Linked DNA regions of Homo sapiens: region 2 is linked to region 1. Evidence: fine-mapped expression QTL. Tissue or cell type: whole blood. Region 1 holds a variant in brackets; the other region holds the start of a gene. All regions are shown on one strand. Distances are between the middles of the regions.

Region 1 (8,102 bases):
AGAACTGTTACAACTCAACAGCAATAAAAACAACTCAATTAAAAATGGGCAAAGGACTTGAATAAACATTTCTCCAGAGAAAACTGTGAATGGCTAATAATCACATGATAAGATACTCAACATCACTAACCATTAAGGAAATACAAACCAAAACTGCAATGAGGCGCAACACTTTGGTGGATCACCTGAGGTCAAGAGTTGGAGACCAGCCTGGCCGACACGGTGAAACCCCGTCTCTACTAAAAATACAAAAATTAGCTGGGCGTGATGGTACGTGCGTATAGTCCCAGCTACTTGGGAGGCTGAGGCAGGAGAATCACTTGAACCTGGGAGGTGGAGGTTGCAGCAAGCCAAGATCACGCCACTGCACCCCAGCCTGGGCAACTGAGTGAGACTCCATCTAAAAAACAAACAAAACGCAATGAGAAGAGAGGATTTTGAATGTTCCCGACACAAAGAAATGATAAACGCTTGAGGTAATGGATATCCTAATTACCCAGATTTGATTATTACACGTTGTATACATGTATTGAAATATCATTTTGTAACCCATGAACATGTACAATTATGTGTCAACTAAAAATAAAAGGAATAAAACACAATGAGATACCACCTTACGCCCATTAGGCTGGCTGCTGCGTTGGGAAGGATGTGTAGAAACTGGAATGCTTGTGTAGCTACTGTGGGAAATGGTATGGCTGTTCCTCAAAAAATTAAAAATAGAATTACCAAATGACCCAGCAATTTTATTTCTGGGTGTGTATCCAAACGAATTGAAAGCAAGATCTTGAAGAGATATTTGTACACTCACGTTCATAGCAGCCTTCTTCACAATAGCCAAAAGGTGGAAGCAATTAGCTGGGTGTGGTGGCGGGTGCCTGTAATCCCTGCTACTTGGGAGGCTGAGACAGGAGAATCGCTTGAACCTGGGAGGTAGAGGTTGCAGTGAGCTGAGATCGCACCACTGCACTCCAGCCTAGGTGACAGAGCAAGACGCCGACTTAAAAAAAAAAAAAAAAAAAAAAAAAGAGGTGGAAGCCACCCGTGTCCATCGATGGACGAATGGACAAAATGTGATGTGTCTGTACAATAGAATGTTATTTAGCCTTAAAAAGTAAGGAGATTCTGACACAGGCTACAACACGGATGAACCTTAAGGATATTGTGCTAAGTGAAATAAGCCAGTCACAAAAGGACAAATACTGCATGATACCACTTACATGAAGTGCCTTGAGTAGTCAGATTCATAAAGACAGAAAATAGAACAGTGGTTGCCAGGAGCTGAGGTAGGAGGAAGTTCTTGTTTAATGGATATAGAGTTCCATCTTTGGGAAGATGGAAAGAGTTCTGGAGATGGATGGTGGTGACGATTACCCAACAGCGTGAATGTCCTTAATGGCACCAAACTGTGCACTTAAAATGGTTAATATGGTAAGTTTTATGTTCTGCGTATTTTACAATTTGAAAAAAAAGGCCAACGTGGGCCAGGCGCAGTGGTTCACACCTGTAATCCCAGCACTTTGGGAGGCCGAGGCAGGAGGATCCCTTGAGCCCAGGAGTTCAAGACCAGCCTGGGCAATACAGTAAGATCTCTTTTTTTTTTTTTTTTTTTTTTTTTTTTTGAGACGGAGTCTCGCTCTGTCGCCCAGGCTGGAGTGCAGTGGCGCGATCTCGGCTCACTGCAAGCTCCGCCTTCCTGGTTCACGCCATTCTGCCTCAGCCTCCCAAGTAGCTGGGACTACAGGCGCCCGCCACTGCGCCCAGCTAATTTTTTGTATTTTTAGTAGAGACGGAGTTTCACCGTGGTCTCGATCTCCTGACCTCCTGATCCACCCGCCTCGGCCTCCCAAAGTGCTGGGATTACAGGCATGAGCCACCACGCCCGGCCTCTCATTTCTAACAAACAAACAAAAGATGGATCTTCACCTGTGGACAGAGAAAGATGTCCACTGGCATTGTGACTTGAGAGGCAACAGGCAGGGCAGGGGCCTGGTAAAGTCACGTTTGTCTTGAAAACCTTTGCCATTAGCTAAAACGTTTTTAAAATGTGAATGACACGCAGTGTTGATGGTGTGGAAAAACAGGCACTCTTACAGCTTCAGTCTTTGTGCGAAGTGGCGTAACCTCCAGTTCTAATCTGGCCATGCCCATCAAAATGGGAAATGTCGCAGCCATAAAAAATGAGAGTTCATGTCCTTTGTAGTGACATGGATGAAGCTGGAAACCATCATTCTCAGCAAACTATCGCAAGGACAAAAAAAACCAAACACGGCATATTCTCACTCATAGGTGGAAATTGAACAATGAGAACACATGGACACAGGAAGGGGAACATCACACACCGGGGCCTGTTGTGGGGTGGGGGAAGGGGGTAGGGATAGCATTTGGAGATATACCTAATGTTAAATGACGAGTTACTGGGTGCAGCACACCAACATGGCACATGTATACATATGTAACTAACCTGCACATTGTGCACATGTACCCTAAAACTTAAAGTATAATTTAAAAAATAATAAAACAAAATATAAAAAAAGGAAAAAAACAAAATGGGAAATGTCACTGGACCCAGAAATGCAAGGCATTTATGCCACCAAGACACTCACATTTGCTTAAAGAAAAATGGAGAACAGCAAATGCTTTGCAATAGCAAAAGCTTGTGAGGTAACGTCAGTGGCTGTCATTACCAAAGAACACTAAGAAGAATGAGGTAGCTCCATGGGAGAGGACTTAGACCAGCACTGTCCAAGAGAACCTTCTAGAATGATGGACATGTTCTCTATCTGGGTTGTATCATACGGCAGCTATCAGCCATGTGTGTCTATTGAATTCCTGAAATGTGGCTAGTGTACTTGAGGAACTGAATTTTTAATTTTATTGAATTGTATTTAAATTTAAATTAAGGCTGGGTGCAGTGGCTCACACCTGTAATCCCAGCACTTTGGGAGGCCAAGGCGGGTGGATCATGAGGTCAGGAGTTCAAGACCAGCCTGGCCAAGATGGTGAAACCCCATCTCTACTAAAAAAAAAAACCCACAAAAATTAGCCAGGCACAGTGGCAGGTGCCTATAATCCCAGCTACTCAGGAGGCTGAGGCAAGAGAATCACTTGAACCCGGGCAGCAGAGGTTGCAGTGAGCCGAGATCATGCCACTGCACTCCAGCCTGGGCAACAGAGTGAGACTCCATCTTAAAAAAAAAAAAAAAAAAATTAGCCGGTCATGGTGGTGTGTGCCTGTAGTCCCAGCTACTTGGGAGGCTGAGGCAGGAGGAGTGCTCTACTTTTAAAAAATACATAAAAATTTAATCTTTTAAAATACATTTAAATCACCTCCTGGACTAGCGACTACTATATTGAACAGTACACATCTAGAACAATCTCCAAGATCTATCATTAATTGGAAAAAAAATAAAAGCCAAGAGCAGGCCGGATGTGTGGTGTGCGAACCCCACATAAATGAGGGGAGGAGTGGAAATGTACTCACGTATTCTTTTTGGTTTGTTTATCTGTTTAGAAACAGGGTCTCACTGTATCACCCAGGCTGGACTGCAGTGGCTGTTCACAGGGAGATCATAGCACACAAATTCCTGGGTCTGGCGATCCTCCCACCTCAGCCTCCTGAGTAGCTGGGACTGCAGACGTGCGCCACCGCACCCAGCTTCATGTATTTGAGGATGCAGAGGCTCATGCTGGAAGGGTCATAAGAAACCAGCAACAGTAGTAGCCCAGGGCCGGGGGTTCTGGCTGCCACCATGTAACACTGCACCTCAAAACTTAGTGAATAACGCTGCAATAACCGTGCAAGCGCAGATATTTCTTCAACATACTAGATTCATTTCCATAGGATATGTGCAAGCGCAGATATTTCTTCAACACACTAGATTCATTTCCATGGGATATATACCCAGTGGTGGGGTTACTGGATTATATAGTAATGCCTTTTTTTTTTTTTTTTTTCAAAACAGAGTCTCACTTTGTTGCCCAGGCTGGAGTGCAGTGGCATGATCTCAGATCTCAGCTCACTGCAAATTCCACTTCCCAGGTTCAAGCAGCTCTCATGCCTTAGCCTCCCAAATAGCTGGATTACAGGTGTGTGCCACCACGCCCTAAAAATACAAAATAAAAAATTTTTGTATTTTTAGTAGAGACAGGGTTTTGCCATGTAGGCCAGGCTAGTCTTGAACTCCTGACCTCAAGTGATCCACCCACCTCGGCCGCCCAAAGTGTTGGGATTACAGGTGTGAGCTACCACGCCCGGCCAGTAATTCTGTTTTTTAAGGGCTTAAAATAACCACCAGTATATTTGCTCACGATCCTGTAGGTGAGGAATTAGGACAGAGCATGAGGGGACGGCTTATCTCTGCTCCAAGCGTCCACAGTGGCTTCTGTGCTCCACGTGTGGCACCTCACGGCTGGCCCGAGTGGCGGATGGCTGGCTGGACCATGTGTCTGCTGCCTTAGTTCATTCCTCAGTGCTCCCTCTGGCAGTTTCTTTCTCCCCATGTGGCCTCTGCACATGCTGCAAGTTGTCCCTTCAAGTAGCCTCTCCTCCTGGCCTCTCTTGCCCTTTCCATGTGGTCTCCTCAGCA[C/T]AGTCTTTTTTTTTTTTTTTTTTTTTTTTAAACCTTGCACTTTTTGCAACCAGCACAGACTTCTTACACAGCTGCTGGCCTCCCCCAGAACACAAAAGTGGAAGCTGCTGCTTAAGACTTAAGCCAGCCAGGCGCGGTGGCTCACGCCTGTAATCCCAGCACTTTGGGAGGCCGAGGCGGGTGGATCATTTCAGGTCAGGAGTTCAAGACCGGCCTGGCCAACATGGTGAAACCCTATCTCTACTAAAAATACAAAAATTAGCCAGGCGCAGTGGCACGACCCTGTAATCCCAGCTACTCAGGAGGCTGAGGCAGGAGAATCACTTGAGCCCAGGAAGGGGAGCAGAGGCTGCAGTGAGCCAAGATTGAGCCACTGCACTCCAGCCTGGGCAACAGAACAAGACCCTGTCTCAAAAAAAAAAAAAACTCAATTCACCATGGGGCCTAGCGTGGTGGCTCACGCCTATAATCCCAGCACTTTGAGAGGCCAAAGCAGGAGGATCACTTGAGGCCAGGAGTTCAAGACAAGCCGGTCAACATAGCGAGACCCCCCCGTCTATACAAAAAAATCCAAAATTAGCCAGGTATGGTGGTGCGCATCTGCAGTCCCAGACATTCAGGAGATTGAGGCAGGAGGATCTCTTGGGCCCGAGAGGTCAAGGCTGCAGTGAGCCATGACTGTGTCACTGCACTCCAGCCTGGGTGATGGAGCAAGACCTTGTCTCTAAAAAGAAAAAAAAAAAATGTTTGCCATGGACACGTATGACCTTATGATTGGTTGGGTCCAGAATGTTGCCCGGTCCTGCTTCCACACCTTGGTTGTGCTGTTCCCCTGCCTGTAACAGTCTTCCTTTCCATCCCCAGCTGTCGAAATGCCCAGGGAAACGTTCCCTGAATGCCCAAGTCCGTTACTCTCCCCTCCTCCAGGCTCCAGCTGGACTTCAGGCCTCTGGGCCTCACTCCATCCACCCTACTGGAGTTAGTGTTGTGTAGTCTCCCTCTCCTGGGAACCCCTCTAGGGTCTGCGCAATCTTGGTCATCTCTGTCCACACACACATACAGTGGAATCATGCAGGTGCTGAGTAGGTGCTCAGTGACTTGAGGGCCCAAACCAGGAAAATACACATTTGCCCAACCCACCTTCCCCAACCCACCCCACCCCACCCCCACGCCCCGCCACAGGCATCATGGGTTGCGCTGCCTAGAATGGCCACAAGGTGGCGCGGGAGCCCCGCCTCCGATCTCTGCAACCTCTGAACTGGGAAACAGCTTCAGACTGGGGTTCCTGAGGGCCAGAGACCCCCGGGAGAGGGGGCCTCAAGCCCAGCTTTAAAGAGAAAGCTTACAGGCCAGGCGCGGTGGCTCACGCCTGTAATCCCAGCATTTTGGGAGGCCCAGGCGGGCAGATCACCTGAGGTCAGGAGTTCGAGACCAGCCTGACCAACATGGTGAAACCCCCGTCTCTACTAAAAATACAAAATACAAAAATATTAAAAATACAAAAATTAGCCCGGTGTGGTGGTGCATGCCTATAATCCCAGCTACTTGGGAGGCTGAGGCAGGAGAATCGCTTGAACCCGGGAGGCAGAGGTTGCGGTGAGCCGAGATCGCACCATTGCACTCCAGCCTGGGCAAAAAGAGTGAAACTCGGTCTCAAAAAAAAAAAAAAAAAGAAAGCTTACTGCCTACTCCCCTCCTCAAATTCAAAATTTACTTCCTCTTCAAGTAAATGGACTTTAATTATAGGCGTGCCAGCACTGATAGCTGCAACAATCTCTGAAATCTTGTTTGAGTGAAAGATGCCAGATGCCAAGAACTTCCTGTGTGATCCCATCTGTTTAGAGCTCTAGAACAGGCAGAACTCACCCATGAGGAAAATATCAGCACGGTGGTTGCCAGTTGGGGGAGAGCACAACTGAGGAGGGGACAAGGGTGCTCGCTGGGGTGATGGTGTGTGTTTCGTGTGAGTTTCCTAAGGCCGCCATGATAAGATACCACAAACCCAAAACAACAGAAATTTATTCTCCCCTGAAACCAGGGTCCTGCTCCCTCTGGAGGCTCTGGGGAAGAATCCCTCCTTGCCTCTTCCATGGTGCTTGCCCGCCATCCACCATGTTCCTTGGCTCTAGCTGCCTCACCCCAATCTCTGCCTTAATCTTCCAACGGCCTTCTTCCAGTGCCTTCTTCCCTCTGTGTGTTCACCTCCAAATCTCCCTCTCCTTTCTCTTATATAAACACCAGTCATTGGATTTAGAGCCCCCACAATCCAGAATGATCTCATCTTAAGTTGGGTTCATCTGCAAGCCCCTATTTCCAAATAAGGTCACATTCACAGGTCCCAGGGGTTAGGACTTGAACATATCTTCTTGGGGGACACAATTCAACCCACTGCATGTTTAACATCTTGGAGGGAGTTTGGGCAGTGCAGGTGGATGCATTTGTCAAAAGTAATCAAAAGTGGCTGGGCGCAGTGGCTCACCCCTGTAATCCCAGCACTTTGGGAGGCTGGGGCGGGTGAATCACTTGAGGTCAGGAGCTCAAGACCAGCCTGGCCAACATGGTGAAACCCCATCTCTACTAAAAATACAAAAATTAGCCTGGTGCAGTGGCAGGCGCCTGTAATCCCAACTGCTCAGGAGGCTGAGGCAGAAGAATCACTTGAACCCTGGAGGCAGAGGTTGCAGTGAGCAGAGATCGCAACACTAGACTCAGCCTTGGTGACAGAGCAAAACTCCATCTCAAAAAAATAATAATAATAATCAAAAGTACACCTAAAGGTGCAGTTCACCAAATGTAAGCTTTACAGACAGAGAAACAAATATTTGACTCTAGTTAATGACGTGCACACTGACATCTTGACATGCACACTGACATCTTGAGGGGTATCTGCAGCTTACCCAATTAAATGTTAAAAATAAAACAAGCCAGCCATGGTGACTGCCACCTGTAATCCCAGCACTTTGGGAGGCCAAGGCGGGTGGATCACTTGAGGTCAGGAGTTCAAGACCAGCCTGGCCAACATGGTGAAACTGCGTCTCTACTAAAAATTAGCTGAATGTGGTGGCGCACGCCTGTAATCCCAGTTACTTGTGAGGCTGAGGTAGGAGAATTGCTTGAACCTGGGAGAGGGATGTTGCAGTGAACCGAGATCGTGCCACTGCACTCCAGCCTGGGTGACAGAGTGAAACTCCATCTCAAAAAAATAACTGAAATAAATAAATAAATATAAAAATAAAACAGATTAATGAATAAACAGAGGTAGAGCCCCACCAATGCCACTTTTGAGAATCTATCCTGAGGAGCTCATCATGAAAATAACTCAAGCCTGCTCCTCACCACACATTCATTTAGGCTTTTCTTTAGATAAGATCTCTGTAGCCCAGGCTCAAGTACGTCGGCACCATCACAGCTCACTGCAGCCTCAACACCCCCAGACTCAGGTGCCCTTCCCTCCTCTGCCTCCCAAGTAGCTGGGACCACAGGCACGCACCACCATGCCAGGCTAATTTTTTT
Region 2 (8,102 bases), 86 kb before region 1:
CCACGTCCTTCCTGCGGAATCCCCAAGGGGAAGTTGGCCGTGGTGGATTGCCACCTTGCCAGACAGCTCGGGTGCTTGCGCCTGAGTGAGGCAGGCCATCGCTTGGGGTCCTCTGTTTGAACAATAGGCACCACAGCTCAGGAAAAGGGGAAACAAAAACAATAACCATCGGACAAGATACCCCCAAAGGGAACACCGAGCATGGACCAAAAGTTCCTAAATTCCATTCCTTGCAACTGTCTCCTTCCAGACTCCTGGAGGTTCTGTGATACGGAAAGAAGGTTCCAGGCTCCAGTGCCCATTGCTCTGGGCATGATGGAGGCTCGGAGCTGCTCTCCCCACCACTGGGACACCCACCGTCATCCAGGCAGTGATCCTGGAAGAGGAAAGGTGGTGACCTCAGCCCAGGGGTCACCTTGGGACCCAGACACCATCCCTATGGACTGCATCTGTGGGAGGACCCACGGAGCCCGGCGCCAGCTGCTGCGTTCTGCGCACTGCCCTGTGCTGGCCCCATGCTGAATAAGACACAGTCCCCACTTGCCGAAGCTGACCTTTGGCAGGTGTGGTAGGGGTGGGCAGGGCTACTTTCAGGGATGGTCTGGGAGGCCTCTCTGAGGTGCACAGGCCCGAGTGAGGGGATGGGGCTGATCATGGAAAGATCCAGAAAAAGAGCACCCAGGAGAGGTGGGGCAAAGCTCTATGTGTTCTAGCAGGAGGAGGGAGGTCACTGCGGGCAGGGAAGAGGGGAGGGGAGGTGGGGAGGGGGAAGGCCATGCAGGGCTGTCCTTGGGACCAGAGCAGGGACTGTCTTTCTCTCTGAGGGAGGTAGGAGTAGGGTTTGGAGTGAGGCAATGGTGTGACCTGACTTGGGTTCCAACAGGAGCCCTCTGGCTGAGTGTGGAGGGCTGTGTGGGGTGGGTGGGGAGTCCAGGGCGGAGATTCTGCCCAGGCAGGCGAGCAATGACCAGACAGAGGAGGGAAGACTTGTCGAGTTCTGGATTCAGTCCACAGGCAGAGCCGATGGAATTTGCTGAGGATTGAATGTTGGGGTTAGAGAGAGAGGAGTTAAGGACAACTCTGGGGTCTGAGGCCTGGCCCACTGGGTGGGTGGCAGTGCTGTCTTCTCAGCTGGGAAAGACATCCATGTCTCCCAGTGGGGTGCGCCCCTGGGACACCCATGGACAGACTGACAGAGCCCGCATAAAGGCACGAGGGACCCCGCACAGCTGAGCTCACGGGGCAAGGGTCAGATGAAGGCAGGAGAGGGGTCGTTTTCAAGGCCCAAGGAGGAACGGGCAGGGAAGTAAGAGGAGAACCAGCGAGACCAGCAAGCCGCCATCAAGAGGCTGGGGAAGACTGTGCTCAAGGAGGGGGCAGTTACCCAGGGGGCAGACGCTGCCAAGAGGACCAGCCAGAGAAGGCCGAGCAAACCCAGGCCCACTGTGCCACTTAGGCCGTCAGTGAGACTCCAGCTGGTGGCCAGCCCAGCCGTGCCCCCATCACCTTCGGAGCCCACATCTCTTTGGAGCAGCCAGACAGGCTGAACCCTAATTGGCCTGAGTCAGCCACGGGAATTCCTTTCTGGTTCAAATGTGGACATGTGAGCCCATCATTCCATGAGACACCAGGGGACATCCACTGGGACATGTAAGAAAAATTGTTGGCTGGGCACGGTGGCTCACGCCTGTAATCCTAGCACTTTTGGGAGGCTGAGGTGGGTGGATCACCTGAAGTCAGGAGTTTGAGACCAGCCTGGCCAACATGGTGAAAATTCATCTCTACTAAAAATACAAAAAATTAGCTGGGAGTGGTGGCCCACGCCTGTAATCCCAGCTATGTGGGAGGCTGAGGTAGGAGAATCGCTTGAACCCAGGAGGCGGAGGTTGCAGTAAGCCGAGATCGTGCCATTGCACTCCAGCCTGGGCAACAGAGCAAGACTCTGTCTCAAAAAAAAAAAAAAAAAAAAAAGTGAGATCCTGGAGGAGAAAGTCCCCTTTTCTGTTCATCTCTTCCTAGTTAGGATGTGATCATGTGGGACGTGATGTCTTGAGCCACAGCAGGCACTGGGGCCCATGAAGAAAGAGAAGTGAAGAGATGCCTACCTAGAGCGCAGGGAGCCTGCCCTGGAACACTGGAATGGCCCCACGTTAGACTTCATGTTATAAGATTTAATTAATATTTTTACTGTTGCAGTCATAGAAGATGGCCTAATTGGGGCAAGAGGAAACATAGGAATGAACCTGAGACAGGGGAGAAAATGGAGAGAGGAGGGATGAGAGCTGGAAGGGGGTCAGAAACACCCAAGCACGGGGTTCAGATGCACAGCAGGCTCCCTAAGTGTGAGTTGCTGTTTCTGCAAACAGGAGTTGTTCCCTGAGCACCTACTCTCTACCAGGTACATTTCCAAGCCCTGGGTGTCCATCAAGTCCTTTAATCCTCCCAGCAGTGCCAGGGAGGCTTCATCTGCTCCCCACATCTCTGCTTCCCCCGCCCCATGTTCAGATTCTAAAAAACCAAAAGGGCTCCCTCTAATTCATCTCGCCCCCAGAGAGCACTGACTCCCCACGGTGTCCCACTGAGCCCCACTGAGTCCAGTCCACCTCAACTTTCCTGCCTCTGGGAACAGGGTACCCACCCTCTGAGGGCCCCACTTCCCAAAGTTCTTTGTCCTGGCACAGCAGGTGCTGAGTAGCTCCCTGGACCTCTGTTTCCGCATCTGTAAAAAGCCACTAATCCTAATTGCACCTCCTAGGCTGATTGTGATGACCCAGGAAGGACCCTTGACCCAGTGTCTGGCCTGTAGTAGGGCTCGGTAAGCGTGAAATCTGATTATTGCCCATTATATTTATGGTTATACACAGGGCTGGCCCTGCCTCCTGCTGGAGCCGTGGGTCTGTCCAGGTTGAGAAGCTGAGGTGCTTGGAGCGTCCCCAGATCCCAAACAGGGAGCTGGAGTAGGAGGCGGGAGCATGAAGTCTCCTGGGCCCCGCCCGCCACCTCGCCCTGCCGCCCCTGCTCAGCAGCCGCCCCGCCCTGCCACCTTGGTCTCTGAGAACCCATTGTTCCTACCTGGCTCTGCTCCAGGGTCCTGGCCTTGCCACTTTCCTCTAGGATCCCCCGCCACCCCCGGGGCTTGGGCCTCCCCGCGGGGTCCTAAATTGGGTGCCAGATGTGGCAGCTGTCCAGCAATGGGAACAGGAGCTGGAACCCCAGCTCTGCCACATCCCAGCTGTGTGACCTTGGGCGCTTCCCCTCTCTGAGCCTCAGCTTCCTTGTTGGTTAAATGGGATGACGGGACCTCACAGGGCTGTCATGAGGGTTTCGTGAGCCCAGGATGGCAGAGTGCCCAGCATGTGGTAGGGCTCGGGAACATTCATCCTAATTTCTCTGCTCCTCACGGGCCTAGAGGAAGAGCCAGGAACATCAGAGGCAGTGGCCAGAGTGGGTAGAGCACTGGAAGGGGAGTCTAAGGCCAGGGTCCCGGCTCCAACCCTGCTGTGTGACCTCGGGCAGGCTGTGGGTATCTCTGGGCCCCAGAATGAGGGAAAGAAGTAGCTGGGATCCTCCTTCCTCCCCAGGAAGCAAAGCAGAGGGGTGGTGCCAAGTTTTCTTTTCATTTTTTTTATTTTCAGCACAAAGGGCTCAAATGGAAAGCAGCTGCAGAGACAGAGAATCCGATTGTGAAGGCACCCGAGACTCCAGGCAGGCGGAAGAGGCAGCGTCTTGGGTGCTGGGCTGGGTAACAGAGGCCAGGGTATTGACCAGAAACTCCAACAAGCAGGGGACAGCTTGGGGGGTGGGGGGTTGTCTCCCACCCCTTCTTCAGGGTGCTGGCCTAGGAGACAGGGACCCCGCCTCGGGCATCTCCTGCTTAACCTCAGTTTCTGTGTCCAGACATGGGCAGGCCATCCTGACTCTCTTAGCCTTGGTTTCCATCTCCAAAATGTGTCCAGTAGTGGCACCTTCCTTCTAGGGAGGGGTTGTGTGGTTAAGGTCTCGGGGCGGGCTCCTCAGTCAAACAGGCTTGGCTTTGATCCTGCCTCTGCCTCTCACTAACTGTGTGACCTGGAGTAAGCCACCTCCCCTCCCTGTGCCTTGATTTTCCCATCTGTGAAATGGAAACAATAATAGAACTAATCTGCTGGGGAGATGAACTGAGAAGACTCAGCCTGGTGCCTGGAGCAGAGTAAAGACTAATGATTATTGTTGTCTTTCTTTTTGGAGGCAGAGTCTCACTGTGTTGCCCAGCCTGGAGTGCAGTGGCAGTGGCGCGATCTCGGCTCACTACAAGCTCCACCTCCCAGGTTCAATCATTGACCCTCCAGCCTCAGCCTCCCGAGAAGCTAGGACTATAGGCTCACACCACCAGGCCCAGCTAATTTTTTGTATTTTTAGTAGAGACCAGGTTTCACCATGTTGACCAGGCTGGTCTTGAACTCCTGGCCTGAAGTGATCTGCCTGCCTTAGCCTCCCAAATTGCTGGGATTCCAGGTGTGAGTCACCGCGTCCAGGCATCTTTCTTATTATTATTATCCCAGGAGCTCCACCTGCTAAGGCCCCAGCCTCAGAAAGCCTCCCTTCCCCTGAGTGCTGGTTCATCTCAACAATTTCCTCACATATTTCTTGAGCAGCAACTATACCGGTCTTGGCAAAGCCAAGGTTCTATCTAGGAGAAGAAAGACATTAAATGAAGGACCCGTGTGTGAAGGGCTTGGTGAGTAGCAGGGGCTCATTGACACTGTTCACCAGCACCTGCCCCCTCAGCTGCTCTGTGCTGGACTCTTTCTGGGCTCTGGGGACACAGTCTTCAGGGGAGTCCCAATCAGAGGGTCTGGGTGGAGGTGAGAAGCTGGTGTGTGGATGAGGCAGTTTCTCACACTGTGGCAAGGTCTGTGATGGAGGAAGTCCAGGTGACTTTGGGAGCTAGAGGTCAGGATGGGCTTCCTGGAGGAAGTGGTTAGGAATGAAAATAACATCTATTCAGCATTATTATTATGATGTGTCAGGCACTGTTCTCTCCTCAACACCCCGCTCCAGAAGGTTTTCTTCTCACACACCCATTCTACAGGTGAGTCTGGGATCAAAGAGGCCCAGTAGGGTGTCAGAGGTCACGTAGCCAAGACATGGCAGAGCTGAGATGAAACCCCGCAGTGGGACACTGCCCCACTTGCCCCCCGACAGCGCTCTCCAGCCTCCAGGCCTTTGCTCCAGCTCTTCCTTCTGCCCAGACATTCCAGACCCTGCACCGTCTCATATCCACTCTGCTGGAGGAATGAAGAGAACAGCCCTTGGAGGCCGCAAAGTGTCCTCAAGCCTCAGTTTTCCCATCTATGAAATGGGGATAGCATGGGGCTTTCCTCTCGGGCTGCAGAAAGGATCGAGAAAAGGCTTATTATTCACCTAGGGCCTAGCCCTTGGGAACCAGTCCGGAAGGACAGCTGTTATTATTGCTAATGCTGTTCCTATCACAGTGACAGCGTGTCCCGTTAGGCCTGCAAACCCCTATACCTCAGTTTTTCCTGTAATGAAACCTGCCTGCTGAGGCCTCGGTGAGGGCTCATTTAATGATAATCTTTAGGGAAAAAAAATACACCCCCCAAGCCGCCTGTGTGGCTGCAGCCCACAGGGGTAACCTGACGCCCCTCGCCTGACCTGGCCCCCAGGTCTTTGTGTGAGTCCTGCCCAGATTACTGTATTTGTCCAAACCCAAAGCCAAGGCTGGCATGAGCTCAATGCTCTGCATTGTGCCAGAGCCAGGCCCCCCAGGCCTCATCCCTCCTCCCGCTGGGGATCCGGCCCCCAGGAGGTGTCACAGGGGAAATCGGAAACCCAGCAGGGCCCACTGGGGTGGCCTCCTGGGTGCCAGGCCCTAGGCTTACGCTCCTTGCGTGTTGCCTCATCAATCCTTCATGACCTCACTGTGCAGAAAGGCACATGCTGTGCCCATTTTCCAGATGGAGAGAATGAGGCCCGGGTAGCCAAATTGTTGCTACAGTTCATGCCGGTGGAAGTGGCAGAGCTCAGGTCAGGCTGAAGGAGGACCTGTCCCCAGAAGAGGAACCTGGGAACCCTGGATCTTCAGCTGGAGCCAGGCATCTTGGGGAGCAGAGATGAAGGAAAGCCGAACCATGTGGCAGGGGGCACCATGGCTAAGGATTCCGCCCTGAGTTCAAGTCCAGCTCTGCCACACGCCCTGCACAGAAACCTACTCCTCTCTGAACTTTGCTTTCCTGAACGAAAAAAATGGGGGAGCAGCTGAGCACGGCAGCTCACGCCTGTAATCCCAGCACTTTGGGAGGCCGAGGTGGGAAGATCACTTGAGGTCAGGAGTTTGAGACCAGCCTGACCAACATGGTGAAACGCTGTCTCTGCTAAAAAGACAAAATTAGCCAGGCGTGGTGGTGGGCACCTGTAATCGTAGCTACTCAGGAGGCTGAGGCAGGAGAATCACTTGAACCTGGGAGGCGGAGGTTGCAGCGAACCCAGATCGCGACACTGCACTCCAGCATGGGCAACAGAGCGGGACTCCATCTAAAAAATAAGTAAATAAATAAAAAGTAACAATAACAATAAATAAATAAGGGAACAATAGCTTTTCCTCAGGGGCTGGGAGAGGACTCAGGCCATAAGGTAGGTGAAACACTTAGCAGGTAGTAAGTGCTCAATCTACAGGAGCTTAAAAACCCAACCGCATCCTCCATGGGGAAGAATCTGTCTCCTGCCTGCGGGTCTGAGATTCCAAAACACTGAGGAAATTTGGCTCCAATGGGACCTGGTATTTGGGGAGGGAGTTAAAAAGGAGGGGTGGGGAGCAGTTTTTGGAGATCACTCTCTCCTAGGAGTTCCCTCCCCTCTTCCCAACTTCAGTTTCTCCATCTGACCAGGCTCCTGCCCAGCCCCTCCTAGAGAGACTAGTTTCGGGGCTGATTTTGTTGTTTGCTGTTTTTTTCACATCTGCACATACAATCACTCAGTCTAGTGTGTCTCACATGCCCGCATGGAGCCACTGTGTGTGCACTGTTGTGGTTTTTCATTTTTACTTTTCTGCAAAAGCCTTCTTTTTTTCCCTTGGTGACCATTGAGAATGGATTCTTACCTATTTTTCTGTAAGAATGAAAATCCCATACAGACTGTCTGCCCGGACAAAGGGTTTCTTTATCTGTCATTCCTTTTACAAATCAGAATCACATTGGGCATCCTTTTCTGCATCTTGTATTTTTCACTCAAGAATACCCACACAAGGCCAGGAGCGGTGGCCCATACCTGTAATCCCAGCATTTTGGGAGGCTGAGGTGGGCGGATCACTTGTGGCCAGAAGCTTGAGACCAGCCTGGCCAACATGGTGAAACCCAGTCCTCTACCAAAAATACAAAAATTAGCTGGGCATGGTGTCGCACGTCTGTAATCCCAGCTATTCAGGAGGCTGAGGCACAGGAATCGCTTGAACCCGGGAGGCAGAGGTTGCAGTGAGCCGAGATCATGCCACTGCACTCCAGCCTGGGTGACAGAGCGAGACAGTCTCTCAAAAAAAAAAAAAAAAAAATATATATATATATACACACACATACACACACACACACACACACACACACACGAAACAAGCCCTTGTATACCAATTACCATAGCAGCACTAGTCACAGTAGCCAAAAGGTGGAAACAACCCAACTGTCCATCAGTCGATGAATAGATATGCAAAATGTGATCTAGCCATACAACAGTATTTGATCATTTTTTAAAAATGAAGTACTGGTGGGGCGCAGTGGCTCACGCCCGTAATCCCAGTACTTTGGGAGGTCAGGGCAGGTGATCACCCGAGGTCAGGAGTTCGAGACCAGCCTGGCCAACATGGTGAAACCCCGTCTCTACTAAAAATACAAAAATTAGCTAGACGTGGTGGCACATGCCTGTAATCCCAGCTACTCGGGAGGCTGAGGCAGGAGAATCACTTGAACCCGGGAGATGGAGGTTGCAGTGAGCTGAGATCATCCCACTGCACTCCAGCCTGGGCGACAGAGTGAGACTCCATCTCAAAAAAATTAAAATTAAAAATTAAAAAAAAATGAAGTACTGATGCATGCCACAACGTGGAAGAACCTCAA

Evidence for each region. PIP is the estimated chance that this variant, and not a neighbour inherited with it, causes the effect.
Region 2: PELATON starts here. The variant in region 1 is fine-mapped to the expression of PELATON in whole blood (INTERVAL, PIP above 0.99). The same link has a PIP of 0.9 or more in blood mononuclear cells.

Annotation. Positions count from the first base shown.
Region 1 is chr20:50,177,107-50,185,208 of GRCh38, reverse strand. It overlaps CEBPB-AS1 (CEBPB antisense RNA 1), which reads left to right. Exons shown (of 7, transcript NR_125739.1): 7 at 1-606. Among named protein-coding and RNA genes, the nearest start is that of LINC01273, 8.6 kb to the right of the region's middle. RefSeq lists an enhancer at 5,540-6,039. The variant C/T (reference allele first, on the strand shown) is at 4,590.
Region 2 is chr20:50,262,634-50,270,735 of GRCh38, reverse strand. PELATON (plaque enriched lncRNA in atherosclerotic and inflammatory bowel macrophage regulation) reads right to left here and starts at 3,258. Exons shown (of 4, transcript NR_170992.1): 1 at 3,073-3,258. It overlaps LOC105372656 (a long non-coding RNA gene), which reads right to left. Exons shown (of 3, transcript XR_936835.3): 3 at 6,490-6,534.